2 separate regions of the Homo sapiens genome follow, and region 2 is linked to region 1. Evidence: fine-mapped QTL for protein levels in blood plasma. A gene starts in region 1. The other region holds a variant in brackets. All regions are shown on one strand. Distances are between the middles of the regions. Region 1 holds the start of IGFBP7 (insulin like growth factor binding protein 7). Region 2 overlaps IGFBP7-AS1 (IGFBP7 antisense RNA 1).

The links. PIP is the chance, under the fine-mapping model, that this variant and not a neighbour inherited with it causes the effect. The UK Biobank Pharma Proteomics Project read protein levels with antibody pairs (Olink). The fine-mapping took linkage between variants from a reference panel, not from the people measured, so its PIPs are less certain.
Region 2: its variant is fine-mapped to the plasma level of the IGFBP7 protein (UK Biobank, PIP above 0.99).

What each region holds. Positions count from the first base shown.
Region 1 is chr4:57,109,309-57,112,215 of GRCh38, reverse strand. It overlaps IGFBP7 (insulin like growth factor binding protein 7), which reads left to right and starts at 1,831. Exons shown (of 5, transcript NM_001553.3): 1 at 1,831-2,339. The coding sequence starts at 1,865. IGFBP7-AS1 (IGFBP7 antisense RNA 1) reads right to left here and starts at 2,454. Exons shown (of 5, transcript NR_034081.1): 1 at 2,246-2,454. RefSeq lists a silencer at 1,693-1,762.
Region 2 is chr4:57,146,605-57,149,511 of GRCh38, reverse strand. The region is part of intron 1 of IGFBP7-AS1 (IGFBP7 antisense RNA 1); the gene reads right to left. Among named protein-coding and RNA genes, the nearest start is that of IGFBP7, 38 kb to the right of the region's middle. The variant G/A (reference allele first, on the strand shown) is at 1,215.

The DNA.
Region 1 (2,907 bases):
GAATTAATAAAAAGGAAATCAGGGCCGGGCATAGTGGCTCACACCTGTAATCCCAACACTTTCGGAGGCCGAGGCAGGTGGATCACTTGAGGTCAGGAGTTTGAGACCAGCCTGGGCAACATGGTGAAACCCTGTCTCTAGTAAAAATACAAAAATTAGCCGGGCATGTTGGTGCATGCCTGTAATACCAGCTACTCGGGAGGCTGAGGCAGAAGGATTGTTTGAAGCTGGGAGGCAGAGGTTGCAGTGAGCCAAAATCTCACCACTGCACTCCAGACTAGGCGACACAGGGAGACTTCATCTCAAAAAAATAAAAAAAAGAAAAAGAAAGAAAAGAAAAGAAAGAAAGAAAGAAATTAAATACAATAGGAAATAGAGTGCACTCTGCATTTGTTTCCTTTTCAAGAAAACAAATGGGTCATGTAAACTGCATCTCTTAGGATGGAACAAAGACAAAAATATTTAGGGAAACTCTGCTGTAAAGATTTTTCATTGTTTTTTAAACAACTGTCAGGTCAACATATGACCTTTGAGGGGAAAAAAAATGCTCCACTTGTCTATAATACACTAAGGAGAGGCCAAAAAGCAGTGCTAGGTTTTTCTGGATTGGAGGATGTTTCCCCACTCTCCACCCCCCGATTTTGTGGTCATTTAATTTTCAAAAAATTTGCAATAATTATCCTTGTAAGAGTCTGTTGAGAATGAGTTCTTTACACTGCTAATGGGATTATGAACTGAACTGCTGGCTTTCAGTCAGCAACCCTGTAAATCCCTGGATTTATGCTAAGAAAAAAGAACACAAAAGAACCACAATGTGACATGCAGAATAATGCACGCTGCAATGTTACACATTCAGTTAAAAAGTGAAAGCAACTTCCATGTCTGCATTGGAGAGGCCAGTGTTCCTGGGAAGAGAGGCTTTCAAGTTGAGTTTGCAGAGCACTTCGCAGAAAGACTGAGGAAGAGTCCACCGTTTATATCAAAAACCTCCTGGAATGCTGGTGAAGACTGGGGGCGCTTTAGGTGCCTCCGTGGCAGCTCCAACGAGGAAGGAGCTGGGACCCCTGCTCCTCTCAGCTGCGCTCTGTTCTCCCGAGAGGCTTGCTGGAGGGCGAGCAGTTCAGCAAGAACTCAAAACAAGGGCACAGCTCTCACACGGATTCCAGTACTCACTGAAAACGGCTCAGCACAAAAAAAGCACAGAGTCTTGTTGAATGCCACTGGGAGACAAAGCGGGGAGGGAGGTGCAGGCAGTTAAGAGGTTCCAGAAAGGGAAGTGGTTGGCAACGGTTTGTCCTTTTAGTGCTTGACACCCAAGACCACAGCAGGCCTGTGGCCAGCGGGGACACAGTCCACAAGTGGGGGTTTTTAACAGCTTGTTCTTAAGAGAGCTTCCCAAACCACAGAGTAATGAGCACTCAGGTGTCTCAGGCCCACGGAGGATTTAATAGATGAAACCCTGGATCGTCTCGAAGCCGTGGTTGTTAAGAAGTTTAAATATATTGACCGGAAACGGGGAGAAACCAGAGGGTGGAAGAGCCGCTCGCACTGCGGTGCGATCCCTGAGGGCTCGGGGCAGGGGACTGGGGACCGAGCAGGAGCTGGCGGGGTGAGCTCTGCGAAGCGGGCGTGAGACCGAGCGCCCATGGGCCGGTCACGCCGGGTGCCCGCTCACCCCCCGACGCCAGCAGGAGCGCGCGCGCAGGCCCCGCGGGGCCGGGAGGGCGGCACGGGCGGGGCCCCCGTGCTCTCACCGCCCCGGGGTGTGGTTCCCGCGGACAGGCCGGGCGGGGCGGCGGGTTTAAGGCGCCGGCCGGCCCGACACGGCTCACTCGCGCCCTTGCCGCTGCCACCGCACCCCGCCATGGAGCGGCCGTCGCTGCGCGCCCTGCTCCTCGGCGCCGCTGGGCTGCTGCTCCTGCTCCTGCCCCTCTCCTCTTCCTCCTCTTCGGACACCTGCGGCCCCTGCGAGCCGGCCTCCTGCCCGCCCCTGCCCCCGCTGGGCTGCCTGCTGGGCGAGACCCGCGACGCGTGCGGCTGCTGCCCTATGTGCGCCCGCGGCGAGGGCGAGCCGTGCGGGGGTGGCGGCGCCGGCAGGGGGTACTGCGCGCCGGGCATGGAGTGCGTGAAGAGCCGCAAGAGGCGGAAGGGTAAAGCCGGGGCAGCAGCCGGCGGTCCGGGTGTAAGCGGCGTGTGCGTGTGCAAGAGCCGCTACCCGGTGTGCGGCAGCGACGGCACCACCTACCCGAGCGGCTGCCAGCTGCGCGCCGCCAGCCAGAGGGCCGAGAGCCGCGGGGAGAAGGCCATCACCCAGGTCAGCAAGGGCACCTGCGAGCAAGGTGGGCACGAGCGCTTCCCTCTCCAACCCTGCGCCGCTCGGCCCAGCGAAGGGCACATCCGACGGGGCGTCCGCGGCGGCCTCGCCCCGCGCTGCTCACTGCGATTCCCCCGCGGGCATCCCAGGAGCCAGATGGGAGGGAAAGAGTTGGCAGCCGCGGAATGCCAGGAGCGGTGGGCGACGCCCCCCCTTCTCCTTTTTGGTGGTTTTATTTTGAGAGTTTGCTGCGTGCGTCCAGAAAGTGAGGGCCGGGTGTATATGTAGAAAAGATTTTCCGAGACCTCAGACTTCCCCATGCCCAAAGCGCACCCAACTCGTGCTAACATCTGTCCATTTCTCATCATTCTTGGCTTGGGGATGTAGAGAGAGGTGAAGTCAAGAGATGGGGGAAAGGAGTTTGACAATTAAATATAAAGTAAGGACTTCCAGACAGACTTTTTTTTTTAAAAGATAGGATCTTGCTCTGTCGCCCAGGGTGGAGGGCAGTGGCACGATCTTGGCCCACTGCAACCTCTGCCTCAAGCGATCCTCCTGCCTCAGCCTCCCAAGTAGCTGGGACTATAAGCCTG
Region 2 (2,907 bases), 37 kb before region 1:
CCCAGATTATTTAATCTTCACTTCTAAGGTCCCAGTTTATTACATGCAAAGGACAGATTGATTGCCTGCATTTGACTAAGATGAAGACAGCTTTGTACTCTTGAATCTTTTGCAGAACTTAATTCTTCAAAATCACCCCATATTCCCAGGCCCAGCCACTACTGAACAACTTAAATATCTGCTGGCCTGACCTACCCCAGGCTGTATGTACTTTCCGTTTGCCTGTGAATGGGAACCAAATGGAAACCAGCACATACTCCTGGGTGTCATCAATTCTCCTCAAGCCAAACCAAACTTCATTCTAGCTCCTCAAATGCAGCAATAGTTCTTTGATATTTTTCACTTTCTGATGCTTAAAAGCATTAAGGACTACTAGCTAATTTGGCTACTAGAATACTTTTAAGTCCTGCAGAATGTGGTTGGTTAGTCATAGATGATTAACAGAGGAAAAGAACAGTGTCCAAGTGTCAGCTTCATGTTACTCTAAACTCCTAGCAACTAGGACATCAGAGTCTGGTGAGCTCAGAAATTCTAAGTGTGTGAAGCTTCTCACAGGGTAGAATTCAAAGGACTCCCAAAGTTTCCTTAATCCAGAACACTTCTCCAGCAACCTATTATGATACCTAAAATTTTACCATTAAAGATTTGTTTCAGGCCAGGCACAGTGGATTGTGCCTATAATCCCAGGACCTGGGAGGCTGAGGCAGGAGGAACACTTGAAGCCAGGAGTTTGAGACCAGGGTCAACATAGCAAGACCCTGTCTCTATAAAAATAAAAAGAAAAAAATTAGCTGGACATGATGATGCATGCCTGTAGTTCCAGCCACACAGGAGGATGAGGCAGGAGGATCGCTAGAGCCCAGGAGTTCGAGATCATAGCGAGGTATATTTGTGCCACTGTGCTCCAGCCTAGGTGACAAAGTGAGACCCTGTCTCCAAAAAAAAAAAAACATTGTTTCATTTGAGTTCAATCAAAGTGAGGTCTCTGAATGGCCCTTGTAAGAATCCCAGAAGCTAAGCTCTTAGAGGGCTAGCTATTATCTCCACATTAGCGGAGGTGTCTTCTAAGTTGACAGGCACTGAGCACAAGCCTTTATGAGAATATGAAACATCCAGATTGGAGAGAGACATGAAGAGCAGGAAATGAGTCACAGAAAAGAGGCAAAGAAGGCACTTAGGTACCACTTCCCAATTTAGTCCAGAATCTGTTCAAG[G/A]AAAACACCCATCCAATTTATGAGAGAAATTAGTCCCAGTGAAATGTCCAGAGAATAGAAGTGATAAAATTCCCCATGACATTCTTGGAACCTTTTTTTCTAGAGACAGAGTCTCACTCTTTTGCCCAGGCTGGAGTACAGTGGCTGAATCATAGCTCACTGCAGCCTTGAACTCCTGGGCTCAAGTTATCCTCCCCACCTCAGCTTCTCGAATAGCTGGGACTACACAAGTGCACCATCACACCGGCTAATTTTTTTATTTCTTGTAGAGACAGTCTCACTATGTTGCCCAGGCTGATCTCAAACTCCTGAGCTCAAGCGATCCTCCCACCTCAGCCTCCCAGGGTGCTGGGATTACAGGTGGGAGCCTCCACGCCCAGCCTCCTGGAACTTCAGTAAAACCTAAAGTAGGTTTTTATGCCTTTTCATTCCTGTAACTCACATCATTGGTTGCCACCAGGTGCCTAATCAGGGAAACTAGGACAAGTGGGTGGACACACTTGAGGCAAGCAGAAATTAAAGAGGAGAAATGTACCGTTTAACATAATCGAGTGTCATTAAAAGATTTTTAAATGCTTTCTAAAGTCAGCAAGACAAATCAGTCGACTTCACTTTCTTTTTTTAAAGTGTAAAAAATTGCCACTAGAGTGGGGAAAAAAAATCTCTTGGATGCATTAGTGCTTTATCATTGTCGTCAGCTCTTGCTTTGCCTAACTAATGACTCAATCATCTCTCTCCCTCTGATCCAATCATGTTTCTTCTACCCCAGAGTTGGAGGAGAGTCAATTTCCTCATACTCAGCCGGTACTTAGACCCTGGGCGTAATCCTGGCCTCTTTATCATCTCTTTTCAGGAAGGCTACTAACTGAAATTCTTCTTCTCTAAATGAATTCTATAATGACCCAGAGCCCATATTCACTAACTTTCTTTCCTGGCTTGTTTTATGTAACTATTATAAAGGTAATACTGAACTGCTGGCATCCCACCTACTTAGTGTGTATCTGTTTTGCTCCTTCCCATTTCTACTACTAATAGAAACAGTTTGTCTCTTGTGTTTTATGACACCAAACCCTTGAAATGATCTAATGTAACCTTCATCATTGGACCCACTGGCTTTGGTAAAAACCTGCTGGGGATAGATTCTCCAAATGCTCTTCTCTCCATCTTTGAATGTATCTCTTTATCCATTGCCCCTTCTTCAATCCTATCTCAGGAAAAATACTATACCCCTTGCTCTCTGAGACATAGTATTTCCACTTCCACTCTTCCTTGGCCTTGTCCATTTTGCCTCCTGCTGTATCTTGAAATACGAACTTTTTAACCCTAAACCGCCACCCTATAAATGCTTCCTGTCCTCTGTGTTCTCACTCACAGCCTCTAAATATGCATCTGGGTCACCTAATTAAAACATCTCAACCCTCCCTCCATGTAGAAAGTGCAGACACTAATTCAATGGCTACTTTATATCCTTTAAACGATATATCCAGAGTGACAGGCACATAGCGGATGCTCACAATGTGGTCGTTCCTTTTCCCCAACTGTAGTGGATTTGTTTCTCAGCCTTCCAGCCATAGCTGAGGGAGGACAGCACAGTGGAGGGGAAACAGGCAGATCTTTAGAGTCATGCAGACAAAAGTGTCCTCCCCAGCTCCCCCACCTGCCGTCATATCTGTATAACAGTGTGGGTTGTTGA